2 separate regions of the Homo sapiens genome follow, and region 2 is linked to region 1. A link means that fine-mapping ties the variant in region 1 to the expression of a gene that starts in the linked region. Tissue or cell type: sigmoid colon. Region 1 holds a variant in brackets; the other region holds the start of a gene. All regions are shown on one strand. Distances are from middle to middle.

Region 1 (8,108 bases):
TTGGAATTACAGGCATGAGCCACCATACCTGGCTGTCTCTGACTTCTCTACTTCAACTCCTTCTGCCACCTGACAATTTCTTTCCTTTTTTTTTTTTCCTGAGACAGGGTCTCACTCTATCACCCAGGCTGTAGTGCAGTGGCATGGCACGATCTTGGCTCACTGCCACCTCTGCCTCCCAGGCTCAAATGATCCTCCCACCTCAGCCTCCAAAGTAGCTGAGAATACAGGCATGCACCACCATGCTTGGCTAATTAAAAAAAATTTTTTTTCCTTTCGTAGAGACAAAGTCTCACTGTTGTCCAGGCTGGTCTTGAGCTCCTGGGCTTAACTGATCCTCCCACCTTGACCTCTCGAAGTTCTGGGGTTTTGTGTGTGAGGCGCCATGCCTGGGACAACAATGTCTTTCTCTTCCTTGGTTCAATAAAGCCTCGAATCAGCCCATCTTAGATTGTTGTGCTAGGTTGTCTTAGTTCATTTTGTGCTGCTATATCAGAATATCTGAAACTAGGTAATTTATAAGGTATAGAAATATATTTCTTACAGCTCTAAAGCCTGGTAAGTCTAAGGTTTAGGGGTGCACACCTGGCAAGGGCCTTCTTGCTGTGTATTCCATGGCAGCAGGTGAAGGGCAAGAGAGCAAGACAGCATGAGAGGGACAGAGAGAAGGGGAGAGAGAAAGAGAGAGAGAAGAAGAAATGGGGTTGAATGCATCCTTTTATCAGGAACCCACTCCCTCAATATCGTCATTAATTTATTTATGATGGCAGAGTCCCCATGACCTAATCACCTCCTGAAGGTCCCTCCTCTCAACACTGTTGCCTTGGGGATTAAGTTTCCAGCACATGAACCTTGGGGAACACATTCACACCATAGTATACACCATTGGTCAGAGGACAGCAGCTAATATATTAAATGGTGACCCTTGACTCCGGTGCTGGCCCTATCTGCTCAAGTCTAGAGGCTGGAGGGGCCAGGTGGTTTAAAGCGTGGCCCCAGCAGGGTTTGTGGTCTGGGCAGCTTTTCCTTAAAGTGAATGTGAGTGAGGCAGAAACTGTACCATCACTAGGACCATGTGATTGGAGCTCAGGATTCCAGATTTCCTGCCCAGAACATTTCCCATGAAATTGTCATTTCTTTATTCAGCAGACATGTCGTAATGCTTGTTAAATGTCAATTATGAATATCTTCTTCCTCCTCCTCTTCTTCCTTCTTGCCCCCAGAAGCTTATGATATAATGAAGATAAAGGCAGGAAAATAATTAGAAAACATGAGCACTTTAGAAGAAGTATAAACAATAACCACTTACTGTAAGCGGTAGCTACTGTTATTGTTTATGCATCTTCTAAAGTGTTCATTTATTCTCATTATTTTCTTGTCTTTATCTTTATTATATCATGTATCTGACTGGTACGTATACCAGTCACTGCTGATCACTTTACATATGTTTTCTCATTTAATCTTTACAACTCCCCTGTGATGCCAGCACCACATTTCACACATGTGGAAGGAAACAGGCTCAGAGAGTGATCCACAGATAATAAACAGCACAGCAGGGCTCTGATGCTAAAGCCTGTTCTGTTAACCACTGTGCAGTCTTCACCATGCTGTTAGAGCACAGGGGACCATCTTGGCCTAGGTAGAAGGACAGGGACGACTGGAGAAAGCAGTGGACTTCCAGGAGGAGGTGACATCTGAGCTCATCATGAGCAAGCTTTCCTCAGTCAAGTGTTGGCAAGGCTCACTGTAAACAGAGGAAGCCACATGTGGGAATAGCAAGATGCCAGCAGAGTACAGGGAAAAGCTAGAGTGGGGGTGTGAGTGGGAAGAGGGCCAGGAGCACATTGCACGACCCATGAGTGAGCGCCTCCCTACTTCTGTACCCTCGGTCCCTTTGCCCTGACCCTATTCCTAGCCCTGGCGGAGAATGTGAAGATGAGGCCAGAGGGAACATTGAGAAGAAGGATCTCAGAGAAGAAGGAAAATTCAGCAGAACCTAGGAAGTGCAACTGCTATTGCCTGGGCCTTTGTTCCTGGAATGGACTCTGAGAGTGCATGGTAAAGTCTAAAGTGAAAAATTCAAGAGGAGGGAGCTTTCTTTTACCTGACTTTTGGGTCTTAATCTTAGTTGTTACTTCCTTTAGGAAACATTCCTTGGTCTAACAAGCCTGAGACCCTGAGATGCTTTTTTTTTTGAGATGGAGCCTTGCTGTGTCTCCAGGCTGGAGTGCAGTGGTGCATTCTTGGCTCACTGCAACCTCCGCCTCCCAGTTTCAAGCAATTCTCTTGCTTCAGCCTCCCAAGTGGCTGGGATTACAGGCACCTGCCACCACGCTCCGCTAATTTTTGTATTTTTAGTAGAGACAGGTTTTCACCATGTTGGTCAGATTGGTCTTGAACTCCTGACCTCAAGCAATCCACCTGCCTTGGCCTTCCACAGTGCCAGGATTACAGGCATAATCACAGCCTGTAATCCACCATGCCCGGCCTTTTTTTTTTTTTTTTCTCCAGAGATGGGGTCTTACCCTGTCACCTAGGCTGGAGTGCAGTGATACAATCAGTTTACTGTAGCCTTGAACTCCTGGACTCAAGCAGTCTTCTGCCTCAGCCTCCTGAGTAGCTGAAATTACAAATGTCAGCCACCACACTGGTTTGGCGGCTAGGTCTTATTTACCCTTCCACCCCCAATAGAGCATGTGGCTCAGAGTAGCTGCTCAGTAAAAGACTGATGAATGAATAACAAATAGCCTCCAAGGAGCTTCTGCCAAGTCTTTCAGACCACATCGATTTTCTCTCTGTCTCTGGAGTCCTACTGACCTTAACACTTGGAATCCTATGCGTGTTTGAACCAGAAGAAACCTTAAAAATCATCTAGCGGCCAGGCACGGTGGCTCACGCCTGTAATCCCAGCACTTTAGGAGGCCGAGGCAGGTGGATCACGAGGTCAGGAGATCGAGACCATCTTGGCTAACACGGTGAAACCCCGTCTCTACTAAAAATACAAAAAATTAGCTGGGCGTGGTGGCGGGCACCTGTAGTCCCAGCTACTCAGGAGGCTGAGGCAGGAGAATGGTGTGAACCCGGGAGGCGGAGCTTGCAGTGAGCCGAGATAGCACCACTGCAGTCCGGCCTGGGTGAAAGAGCGAGACTCCGTCTCAAAAAAAAAAAAAAAAAAAAAATCATCTAGCTATCTCCTACCTCTACCATCTCAAAGATGGGGTGATTGAGGTGATCACTTATTTGCCAACTGTATTAGTCTGTTCTTGCATTGCTATAAGGAAATACCTGAGACTGGGTAATTTATAAAGAAAAGGGAGGCTGGGCACGGTGGCTCATGCCTGTAATCTCAGCACTTTGGGAGGCTGAGGTGGGCAGATCACTTGAGATCAGGAGTTCGAGACCAGCCTGGGCAACATGGTAAAACCCTGTCTCTACCAAAAATAATTAGCTGGGCATGGTGGTACATGCCTGTAGTCACAGCTACTTGGGAGACTGAGGTAGGAGAATCCCTTGAACCTGGGAGGTGGAGGTTGCAGTGAGCTGAGATCACGCCACTGCACTCCAGCCTAAGCCTAGGTGACAGAGTGAGACTCCATCAAAAAAAAAAAAAAAAAAAGAAAAGAAAGGAAAGGGGTTTAATTGGCTCAGAGTTCCACAGGCTGTACAGGAAGCATGATACTAGCATCTGCTTGCCTTCTGGGGAAGCCTCAGGAAGCTTCCAATCATGGCTGAAGGCAAAGGGGGAGCCAGCGCGTCTTACATGGCAGGAGCAGGAGCAAGACAGAGTGGTCGGGTGGTGCCACACACTTTTAAACAACTGGATCTCATGAGAACTCACTCACTATAATGAGAAGAGCACCAAGGGGATGGTGCTAAACCATTCATGAGAAACCACCCCTAGT[A/TA]TAATCATCTCCCACCAGGCCCCACCTCCAACACTGGGGATTACAAATTTGACATGAGATTTAGGTGGGAACACAGATCCAAACCATATCACCAACAATCTTAGTTTTGTATCTCCAGCCACAGTTTCTCTTCTGAACTCCACAGTGAATCAGCTGCCTATGCAGCCCTCATCTGGGATGTCCCACAGTGTGTGCATCTAAACACATCCAGAATCAGCATCCCCCCCAAGGCCTAGGCATCATTCAGGCTTCCCTGTCTTGGTGAAGAACATCACCACCCAACCAGTTGTAGGGACCACCTACCTCCTACAGCCTCCCACTACCAATAAAACAGCAAGTCCAGCAGTGTCTACTACCTAAACCACAAAATCTCTCCAATTTCCCTCTGCCTCCCTAGCCCAAATCCCCATAGCTCTCAATGGACCCCTGCAAAAGTCTCATTAGTTTCCCCAAATCTGCTCTTTCTTTGTACTAATCCATGCTCCTCATTGCAGCTGGAGTGACATTTAAAAAATGCTACTTTCTCCTTTAACTCCTTTGCTGAAAGATTTCCAATATCTCTCCACTTAAAAAAATATATATTATTAAGTTATTGGCCAGGCGCAGTGGCTCACTCCTGTAATCCCAGCACTTTGGGAGGCTGAGGTGGGTGGATCAGGATTCAAGACTAGCCTGGCCAATATGGTGAAACCCCATCTCTACAAAAAACACAAAAATTAGCCAGGCGTAGTGGCACATGCCTGTAATCCCAGCTACCCAGGAGGCTGAGGCAGAAGAATTGCTTCAACCTGGGAGGCGGAGATTGCAGTGAGCAGAGATCACGCCACTGCCTCCTGGGTAACAGAGTGAGACTCCATCTCAAATATATATATATATATATATATATATATATATATAAAATTATAACTAACACTTATGGAAAATTTATATCCTAAGGTCTGTTCTAAGAACTTTACACATATTAACTCATTTAATCCTCATAACTCTAAATATTCCCATTATACAGACAAGGAAACAGAAACTCAGAGAAGCAACTTCAGGGCCTTTGTGTAAGCTCTTACCCATCCTTGGCTTGTTGATCTGGCTGACTGCTATTCAAGCTTCAGATGGGATGCCTTGGGGAGCATTCAAAGATCTCCCTGTCTAGGCCAGTCCCTCCCATAGCATCTAACCCAGTTTTTATTATACAATTATTTAGGGGGTGATTTGGTTCATGTCTGTCACCCCCATAGGCTTTAAATTCCATGTTTTGCTCATAATTATATCTTGAATATTCAACATATAATAAATACTTGATATTTGTTGAATGAATCAATGAAAAGCATTTTCAGTAAGAGAGGGGATGTGGTCAGATTTGTTTTAGAAGGATTTCTCTTGTGTAAAAGTTTGAAGGTGGTGAGACCAAGTCACCAACAGCAGCTGAATTCAGGAGTGACAGGAAGGCAGGCTGGACTAGAGGAGAGGCAAGAGGGATGGAGAGAAGTGGGTGAACCTAGGAAGTATTTAGGAAGCAAACTGGATGGCTCTGATAATTAAGTGGATAGAAGTGAGGAAGAGGAAGGAATCAGGAGGGACTCCCAAGTTTCTGAGAGCACCTTGAACTGGGGTGAGAAAGCATCTGCAAAGGAGGCAGGTTGGGTTGGCAGAGCAGGCTGTCCCTAGACCCAAGCAACTGAAACATGGAAAAGCTTTCAAAAAAATCTTTGCACCCAAACTCCTTAGCTTGGTCCTGGTGTACTTTATTCAGCCCCATCTGTGGTCTACCCCCAAACTCAGAGCATATAGATCACTGCTCCTCCCCCAAGCCCCACTTGTCATCCAGCCCACCTTAGTAAGTGCCACCCCACTACTCTCTCTCCACAAGATGCAGCTTGGAGGACGTCTCCTCTGGGATCCCTCCCCACTGCCCCCACCGCTTCCTGGGGTGAATGAGTCCTCTGTAGCCATCAGGATTCGCTGTATCAGGAGTGTTCCTCTGCTGTCACCTCTGATGACTATTTTCCTCAATTCAGAATCCCCAGCACCTGCAAAAGGCCTGGATAAAGGTAAACCTCAAAAAAGTTTGTTTTATTGAATTTTCCCAAAGGTTTGGCTTTATTACATTAAGAGCTGAGGCCAGGAATGTGGCAGTAAATTCTGGTGCCACCACTTAGAAAGACAAGTCACTTTTTTCAAGCCTCAGTTTCCGTCCATCAAATGGAGATAAGAATACAGTGCACCTACCTCGAAGAGCTGTTTTGAGGGGAAAATGAAATATGCTAGGTTAAGTGTTTAACACAATGCCTGGAACATGGTTAGTTCCCTCAAAAAATTAGCTGTTATTTATTTATTTTTAAATTCTCGCCTTGATGCTCAGAAGGGGCTGAGCAGGAACAGAGGATTGCAGTTCTTAGGATGGCCACGCGAGGGAAGTGGTGAGCAGCCTCCAGGAGGACTTCGGCTCGGCTGTGCCAAGGCACCTGCTGAGGACCCAGATGGCCCGCCTGGGGTTTCCGGGACTTCCCGGCCCCTAAACATGTGGGCGCTGGCCAGAGCGCCGCAGGAGAAGCCTCTGCCAGGTGCTCGGTCTCGACTCTCACAGCCCCAGCCATCCCTCCTGCTCGTCCCCGTCTCGGCTTGGAGGGGCTGGCGGGCAGGAGGGGACAGGGTAGGGGGCAACCAGGATATATCCCCTCCGTTTTGTCATTTGTCTTTCAAACTGACTTATGGCCATTTCTTCTGTATAGAAGCCTTGTAGTCAAACATTTCCATGTTTTCTCTTATGGCTTCTAGGTTTCATCATGCTTAGAAAGTCTTTTCCATCTCCAAGATTATTAAAATATTCACTCATGTCTTTTTTCTGATACATTATGGTGTTAAATATGTGGTCCACCTGGAATTTATTTCAGTGTCGAATAAGGGCACAGCTTTTTGTAATTTCCCCAAAAGACTTGCTGGTTATTCCACCCATTTGATCTCCGCCACCAACCCCCCCCCCCCCGCCCACAACCCCCTACCAACTCCGCCCCCCATTTGTCTGAAGTGCTGTCTTTTATTCATTCATTCATTTAGAGACAAGGTCTTGCTCTGTTGCCCAGGCTGGAGTGCAGTGGCGTGATCACAGCTCACTGCAGCCTTGACCTCCCAGGCTCAGGTAATCCTCCCACTTCAGCCTCCCTGGTAGCTGGGACTACAGGTGTGTGCAATCATGCCCAGATAAATTTTTTTTTTTTTTTTTTTTTTGAGACAGAGTCTTGCTCTGTTACCAGGCTGGAGTGCAGTGGTGCGATCTCAGTTCACTGCAACCTCCGCCTCCTGGGTTCAAGCGATTCTCCTGCCTCAGTCTCCCAAGTAGTTGGGACTACAGGTGCATGCCACCACACCCAGCTAATTTTTGTATTTTTAGTTGAGACAGGGTTTCACCATGTTGGCTAGGATGGTCTCAATCTCTTGATCTTGTGATCCGCCTGCCTCGGCCTCCCAAAGTGCTGGGATTACAGGTGTGAGCCACCGCCCCCGGCCACAAGTTTTGTATTTTTTTATAGAGACAAAGTTTTGCCATGTTGCCCAGGCTAGTCTCAAGTGATCTGCCCGCCTCAACCTCCCAAAGTTTTGGGATTACTGGCATGAGCCACTGTGCCGGGCCTGAAGTGCTATCTTTATCATACATTGAATTCCCTTGTGGGGCTGGATCCATTTCCATACTCCATTTTGTTCCACAGATCGGTCTAGTCCTGCTTCAATACCATACTGCTTTAAATACATTGACTTTATAGTATGTTTTAGTATCGGGTAAGACAAATCCCTTTTCATTACTTTTCTTCCTGGACTTTTTATTCCTGTATGTTTATTCTTCTATATACACTTAAGAATCAACCCCCTCTCCACCCACCTCCCATCCAGTCCTTCTGGTAACCAATATAGAACTTTGAAGATACTGAAATTATATGCAAAATATACATTGCACATCTCCAGAGAGATAGTGCTAAGTTTTCATCAGATGTGCAAAGGGAACCCCTGGTTTACCTGTCTCTGTGAAAGGGGCCAGGGAGGAGCACACAGGAAGCCTGATTCCTCTCTGTGCTCCCACCCCTCACCTCCACCCTCGTTCCAGGTCCTGCCCTGGCCTCCATCCCACCTCCCCTAATCTAGTCCCCCTTGCTGCTCCAGAGTAACCCATTCTACCACCCAGGCCCTAGTCCAGGCCTAGGCCTGAGGTAGAATAGC
Region 2 (8,108 bases), 160 kb after region 1:
ATCTTATGAAGATACTCTTTTTAAGCCTTCCTTCTAACCCCACATATCTAACCTGCATAGAGAGTAAGCAAAACAAGATACAACCAGTCCATTAGTGTTTGACTTTGAGTGCCAGGAAAATAAATAATTTGACATAGAATTTTAGCTGATAGAGATAGCTATGAACCAAATGTCCCCTTCTTGCTATTCTAATAAGCAGTGAAATAAGGTGAATGCACCAACTCCTATGTCAAAGCGTAAGAAGTGATGCCCTGAAAACGTCATTAATATCAGTTGTGGTTGTGTTTAACTGATTTTTAAATAGTCTAAATGTCACTAATGAAAGAAAACATAGATAGCTAGAAGAAAAGTTATCTGCAATGAATAAAAATAATACAATAGTAAGACTTTTGCTTATAGAGTATCCTACAACATTATTGCTTTACAGGATATTTCAATAGTAACAAAATACAGAAGCTGTGCATTTACACAAGTGTTATAAACTGTCAATGTGCTTTAAATAATTTCAAGAAACTTTATTTCAACTATGAAGTCTCTGAAAATTGGAAAGAATATTTACCCTTCACCAAGAAACTAAAGTTAAAGGGCATTTATTTTTTCTTTTCTTTTATTTTATTTTTTGAGACAGAGTCTCACTCTTTCACCCAGGCTGGAGTGCAGTGGCGGGATCTCAGCTCACTGCAAGCTCTGCCTCCCGGGTTCACGCCATTCTCCTGCCTCAGCCTCCCGAGTAGCTGGGACTACAGGCACCCGCCACCGCGCCCAGCTAATTTTTGTATTTTTTAGTAGAGACGGGGTTTCATCGTGTTAGCCAGGATGGTCTCGATCTCCTGACCTCGTGATGCACCCGCCTCGGCCTCCCAAAGTGCTGTGATTACAGGCGTGAGCCACCGCACCCAGCCCTAAAGGGCATTTATAACACATATGCTATGAGGTATTTGTGAGGGTGAGGGGGAACTCCAAGTCCAAATCAATAACCTTAAAATATTTTATTTCAAATATCTAGACCTGGCTGTCCAATATGGTAGCCATTAGTAGCCACTAGCCATATGTGGCTACTTAAATTTAATTAAAATAAAATAAAATTCACATCTCAGTTGCACTAGCCATATATTAAGTGCTCAGTAGCTACATCTGGCTGGTGGATACAGATAAGGCACAGATACAGAACATTCCCTGATCACAGAAAGCTCTACTGAACAGCATAGAGTTAGACTATTTCCTGTGTACACATTAACTCCCCAAAGAGAGAGGAAGCTCCTGAAATGTATGGAGTTCCTACTTGTTTTACATACAACATTGAGAACAGGTAGTTCTAAACAGGGAAGTGAAATGTCTTTTGGAGAAGATACAAAGCAGGGCATTCTCTGTGAAAGTATTCATCTATAAGAATAAAACAGTACACTAGGGATGGATGACTGATGCTCAGATGTGTCTGGGACTTTCCTACGCAGAAAAGAATCCAGAAGAGAGCATAATGCAGTGCATTGTGTCCCAAATTGTAGTTTGTATGTCTGACACGAGACGATTTTACATAGCACATGGACCAACATTTTTAGATACACCTTAGAATAACTATACTGTTATTGGAGCAGCCATCAAATGGCTAATTTCACAGATATTGTTTCTTAGGACAAGTTTGATTTTTATAAAAAAAAAAAGTAAGTAAAAACATAGAATAATACAGGTAGTACACAGGTATGGCAAAATTGTTAGGTAGTAAGTGAATGGGATGCTGGGAAACAGCATAATGCCAAGAGTCTGGGAGTCCTACAGATATGGATTCTAAACCTAATCCTGAGTAGTTCGGTAGCATTTAGTAGTATGCTACTTGCCTTTTGAGTAAGCTTGGACAAGGTTCTAGTTTTCCTGAAGTTACTGACACATTTTTAAAATACCTACTAACCCTACTGAGATATCCGACCATTGAGTGATAACATATAGTACGCATATTAGCACTCGATGAAGATAGATCTCCTTCTTTTTCCCCAAGGAAGAGATGAGAGAGTGTATCGATTCCCCCTGACAAAGGAGATGAAACTTTAGAAGAGAAACTCCTATTCACCTGTGACTTCGTTGATCTTCCTCCTCATAGGGAAGGCCAGAATGCTGAAATGACAAGGCTAGGGAAGAGAAAGAAGTTCTGAAAGACCAGGTCTGCATTAAAGAACCTAAATTAGCAACTTAGGTCCTTGCTATGGTAGAACCGGAACTTCTGGTCCTTTCTTACCTGACCATTCCCTCACGTTGGGTGTTTTCTCCTCTCACATTGACACTGCACAGACTGTTACCCACCCCAGATCCTAGGTTACATAACGCTCGCCTCTCTCCTGGGGCAAACTCTCTCCATGATTTCTTCGTTCCCCCGTACTCTAGATGCAATGACTTGATCCAATCCCTGCTCCCTGAAAGTAAAAGGGTCAGACATAACCAAGATCCCCAAGGAGCTCCGAGATCAGTTCCCTCTTCCAGCTCCATTCTCAACCCAGCAGCTCAAGCAAGAGACCTTATGACAGCGGCTCTTTCTCTCAGATGGGTTACTGCCTTCTGCAGAATTGCCGATGGCAACATCCTGACTTGTTCAGTGCGGCCCGGACTTGTGGGCTCCGCGGGCGTTTGCCTTCAGGGAAGATCTTTCCTCTGGCCCTAAAGCACTGTCTCCCAGGGAGTGCCATGCATGCCCTAAAGTGTACTGAGCACTTCCTACAGTTCTGGCAGAGCCAGGAATAAGAACAGGGAGCCGTCCACCTCGGGAAGGAGTCCCGGCCAACAGCACTGTGTTCCGAGGGCGAAGGTCCAGAACGGGAACCCGGCCTGTGAGGGGAGACGAGACGAGCCGCTTCCCGGGAGCCGCGCCCACCAAGGGAGGGAGACGCGGCGATCGCAGGGACAGAACCCTAAGCTCCGAAACGCAGCCTCCCAGCCCATTCTCCGGCCTTCCCCTAACCTCTGATACTCCTCCGAACCTCGGACTCCACCTGGTTTCGCCGCGGCCTCGGAGCTGCTCCCGGACGCTCCCGGCGAGGAGACTGAGGAAGCCGGGCAGAGCGCGCTGCCGGAGCGGACTACACAGTCGGCCCGCCACTCGCAAAAAAGCCGCCCAGAGCCCAGTCCCAGAGTGCCCCGCGGCTGCCCACGGACCGCCTTCCCAGAGGCCCTCGCGGCGCCGCCTACCTCGCGAGGCTGCGGCTGGGGCAGAAATCCGTCTCTGTGAGCGGAGGAGGGTGTGCTTATGCGAGAGCAGGTTTTGGGAGCTCACTAAAGCAGGTCAGTCCCTCTGTTTGCGCCGTTGTCTGTGGGTCGTTTAATTCCGGGCGCAGCTGATCTGTAACTTCCCTCACTGGCGAGGTCTCCCAGTTACCACCGGGACAATCCGAGCAAGGTCTGGGCCCCTCGCTGCCCCCGGTGAAGTGCCGCGTCTCCGCTTGGCCATCCGTGGATTCAGCATCCCCACCTTAGCACCTCCCGCCGGCTTTTCCATTGAGAGCAAAACCACGAACTCACTTTTGAGAGATGCTGGCGCTCCCCTCATCAATATTTCTTTTTTTTTTTCTGTTTGCTTACTTTTAACTAACCTTTTATTGATAAATATAACACAATTTTATTCTGAAATATAAACCAAAGATAAGTATAATTATGAACAGCCAAGTCATTAGAGCGAAAAAAGAATAGTGTCAGGTTCTTCACAGATACACTTCCTGAGAAAACCACTAGCCCGACTTTTATAACACTTTGCTTTTCTTATTTATATTTATTTATTTATTTATTTTACCAAAAGCAGATACTTGACTCTTTGCTTTTCTTTACGGTTTATCACGCATACTTGAAAACTGGATTTATGACAAAGGTGGCATCATACAGCCATGGAGAAAAGATGGTCTATTCAGTGAAGGTTCTATGACAATATGAAGGCCGGGCACGGTGGCTCACGCCTGTAATCCCAGCACTTTGGGAGGCTGAGGTGGGCGGATCACGAGGTTAAGAGATCGAGACCATCCTGGCCAACATGGTGAAACCCTGTCTCTACTAAAAAGTACAAAAATTAGCTGGGTGTGGTGGCACACACCTGTAGTCCCAGCTATTCAGGAGGCTGAAGCAGGAGAATCGCTTGAACCGGGAGGCGGAGGTTGCAGTGAGCGGAGATCACACCACTGCACTTCAGCCTGGGCAACAGAGGGAGACTCCGTCTCAAAAAAAAAAACAAAACAGAAAACAGGACCTCTATCTCTCATTTCATCACAAAAATCAATTGTAGCTGGATTAAGACCTAAATGTGAAATCCTAAACTATAAAGTCTTCAGAATATAATATAGGAAAATATCTTTGGACTTCAGAATAGGTAAATATTTTAAAACAAAAATAGAAAAACATTAAATTGGCCAGGCATGGTGGCTCATGCCTGTAATACCAACACTTTGGGAGGCCCAGGTAGGCGGATCACTTGAGGTCAGGAGTTGAGACCAGCCTGGCCAACATAGTGAAACCCCGTTTCTAGTAAAAATACAAAAAATTAGCCAAGTGTGGTGGCAGGTGCCTGTAATCTCAGCTACTTGGGAGGCTGAGGCAGGAGAATCACTTGAACCTGGGAGGCGGAGTTTGCAGTGAGCCGACAACAGGCCACTGCACTCCAGCCTGGGTGATAAAGTGAGACTCTGTCTCAAAAAAAAAAAGGAAAAAAAGAAAGAGAAAAAAGGAAAGAAAAAGAAAGAAAGAGAAAGAAAGAAAAGAAAAGAAAGAAAGAGAAACATTAAATTAAGACAACTACAGGCTGAGTGCAGTGGCTCACACACCTGTAATCCTAGAACTCTGGGAGGCCGAAGTGGGTGGATCCCTTGAGCTCAGTTCAGAAACCAGCTGGGGTAACATGGTGAAAACACGTCTCTACAAAAAATACAAAAATTAGCTGGGGGTGGTGATACGTGCCTGTAGTCCCAGCTACTCTGGTGCGTCAGTTGGGAAAATTTTGAAGTGACTTGTGTTTTAGATAATATTATCAATCAATTATAGGTCTCCTGAGTGTCATAATGATTTTGTGGTTATGTAGGAAAATGTTCTTTTTCTTAGAAATATGTAAGTTGAGGCCAGGTACGGTGGCTCTCGCCTGTAATCCTAGCACTTTGGGAGGCCGAGGCGGGCGGATCACCTGAAGTCAGGAGTTCAAGACCAGCCTGGCCAACATGGTGAAACCCTGTCTCTACTAAAATACAAAAATTAGCCGGGCATGATGGCAGGTGCCTGTAATCCTAGCTACTCGGGAGGCTGAGATGGGAGAATCGCTTGAAACCGGGAGATGGTGGTTGCAGTGAGCCGAGATCATGCCACTGCACTCCAGCCTGGGTGGCTGACTGAGACTCTTGTCTCAAAAAAAAAAAAAAAAAAAAATGGAATTTAAGTGTATTAAATAGTCTGTTCTCATGCTGCTAATAAAGACATACCTGAGATTGGGTAATTTATAAAGGAAAGAGATTTAATTGACTCACGGCTCCACATGGCGGGGGAGGCCTCACAATCATGGAGGAAGGTGAAGGAGGAGCAAAGTCACCTCTTACATGGTGGCAGGCAAGAGAGAACATGTGCAGGGGAACACACCTTTATAAAACCATCAGGTCAGCTGGGTGTGGTGCCTTATGCCCGTAATCCCAGCACTTTGGGAGGCCATGGCTGGTGGATCACCTAAGGTCAGGAGTTCAAGACCAGCCTGGCCAACATGGTGAAACCCTATCTCTACTAAAAATACAAAAAATTAGCCAAGCATGGTGGCAGACGCCTGTAATCCCAGCTATTCGGGAGGCTGAGGCAGGAGAATCACTTGAACCTGGGAGGCGGAGGTTGTGGTGAGCTGAGATCGCGCCACTGCACTCCAGCCTGGGCAACAAGAGTGAAATTCCATCTCAAAAACAAAAACGAAACAAAACAAAACCATCAGATCTTGTGAGACTTATTCACTATCACGAGAACAGCATGGGAAAGACCTGCCCCCACGATTCAATTACCTCCTACCAGGTACCTCTTCCATGATATGTGGGAATTATGGGAGCTACACTTCAAGATGAGATTTGGGTTGGGAGACAACCAAACCATATCATTGAGGAAATGCTTTTTAATCCATTGAGATATGAGAAGGCATTTCTGGATTGAGGCTACAAAAACTTTCTGCCTCTTCCCCAACATAACCTTTCTTACTTGAGATGTAAACTGAATGCCAGGAAAACCCCTCCCCAACCCCTTCACACATGGACCACTCCTCAAATGGGGTTTGAGGGGCAATGACACTGGGTAGAGTGAAGCAGAAGAGATTTAGAAACAGTCATGGAATTTGTGGGGAAAATAAATATCAAAAACATAGTACCATATATTCCCCAAAACTTTCAGCCTAAAGACTGTGGGTCTCAAAACTGAGAAAAGAATGCCCTTTTCCCCAAAAGGCTATCCTAGGAAGTCTGAGTCCTTAAGGCCCACCTGTATGCAAAAGTCACTGATTTGGTTCTTCCATCTCCAGGTCTGTAACCATCAAAATACTGTTAGACACAAATGGCCCATTTTCCTCTGTGTCCATTCTTCCCTCCTTGGTGTTTTGGAGCACAGGACTGTACCCCTAACATTGTACTGACTACAGTCTACCATATATCGGAGTAAGTCTTTATGTGATTACTCCCAGAGCTGCACTGTCCAATACAGTAGCCACTAGTCATATGTGGCTCTTGAACACTTGAAATGTGGCTAGTCCAAAATGAAATGTGCTATAATTATAACATTTACAAGCACTTTGAAGCTGAGTACAAAAAAAAGGTTAAATAACTCACTAATAATGTTTACATTGATTAAATGTTGAGATGATAATGTTTTGGATATATTGGTGATATGGTTTGGCTCTGTGTTTTCCACCCAAATCTCACCTTGAATTTTAATAATCCCCATGTGTCATGGGAGGGACCCAGTGGTAGGCAATTGAATCATGGGGACGAGTTTTTCCTGTGCTGTTCCCGTGATAGTGAATAAGTCTCACAATATCTGATGGTTTTATAAAGGGGAGTTCCCCTACACAAGCTTCTTGCCTGCTGCCATGTAAGACATGCCTGCTCTTCCTTCGCCTCCCGCCATGATTGTGAGGCCTCTCCAGCCATGTGCAATGGTGAGGCCATTAAACCTCTTTCCTTTATAAATTACCCAGTCTTGGGTATGTCTTTATTAGCAGCATGAGAACAGACTAATAAAACTGAGTTAAATAAAACATCTTAAAATTAAGCTGGGTGTGGTGGCTCATGCCTGTAATTCCAGCACTATGGGAGGCCAAGGTGGGTGAATCACCTGAGGTCAGGATTTCAAGACCAGCCTGGCCAACATGGCAAAACCCCATCTCTACTACAAATACAGAAATTAGCCAGGCATAGTGGCATGTGCCTGTAGTCCCAGCTACTCAGGAGGCTGAGGCATGAGAATCTCTTGAACCCAGGAGGCAGAGGTTGCAGTGAACCAAGACTGCACTACTGCACTCCAGCCTGGGCAACAGAGTGACTCTGTCTTTAAAAAAAAATTAATTTTACTTGCTGTTTTTTGTTGTATTAATGTAGCTGCTAGAAAATTTAAAATTACATATGTTTGCATTTGTGTTGTGGCTTACATTATATTTCTGTTGTACAGTGCTGCTCTGGAGTATCAGAGCCTTAAAGGAAGAGAATTTATCTTGCTCAAATTGTGTTCCTCACAGGTATAGGGGCAATAATCGGCATACTCTTTACATGCTCAAGAGAACTCCATTGACAATATTCAGTATTTGAGAATCTTCTATTCCTTATATGAGAATCAGCCTCTCTCTTGAGTCAAACTCCAATTTCTGGCAATTGAAAGGGGCATTTTTAGTCGGAGAAAGCAGGAGGAGGTAGCCCTAGGCCAGGAAGTTGTGGGGGGTGAGAATGAGCTAAGGATGAACGACTGGGGCATGCTTCTGCTAAAAGAAGGCAGCTTCGGATATGGTACATTATGAACCCTTGAGTCAAGGGGTTTTCTCTTTCCATTTCTTGGATCTGTTTCTCCTGTGTTTGCTCCATATCCGGCAGCCTCCCTCCTCTTCCACTGCTAGTAGCTTCCAGGACCATGAAAGCCTTTCA

Evidence for each region. PIP is the estimated chance that this variant, and not a neighbour inherited with it, causes the effect.
Region 2: it holds the start of EXO5-DT, and the variant in region 1 is fine-mapped to the expression of EXO5-DT in sigmoid colon (GTEx, PIP 0.95).

What each region holds. Positions count from the first base shown.
Region 1 is chr1:40,667,266-40,675,373 of GRCh38, reverse strand. It overlaps LOC105378675 (a long non-coding RNA gene), which reads right to left. Exons shown (of 2, transcript XR_947238.3): 2 at 7,698-8,108. It also overlaps a transcript of RIMS3 not described here. Among named protein-coding and RNA genes, the nearest start is that of RIMS3, 5.6 kb to the right of the region's middle. RefSeq lists enhancers at 6,204-6,253, 6,314-6,463. The variant A/TA (reference allele first, on the strand shown) is at 3,903.
Region 2 is chr1:40,503,748-40,511,855 of GRCh38, reverse strand. EXO5-DT (EXO5 divergent transcript) reads left to right here and starts at 3,161. Exons shown (of 2, transcript NR_187365.1): 1 at 3,161-3,267. EXO5 (exonuclease 5) reads right to left here and starts at 3,089. Exons shown (of 4, transcript NM_001346953.2): 1 at 2,948-3,089; 2 at 2,231-2,405; 3 at 2,066-2,123. RefSeq lists enhancers at 2,683-2,772, 2,803-3,052.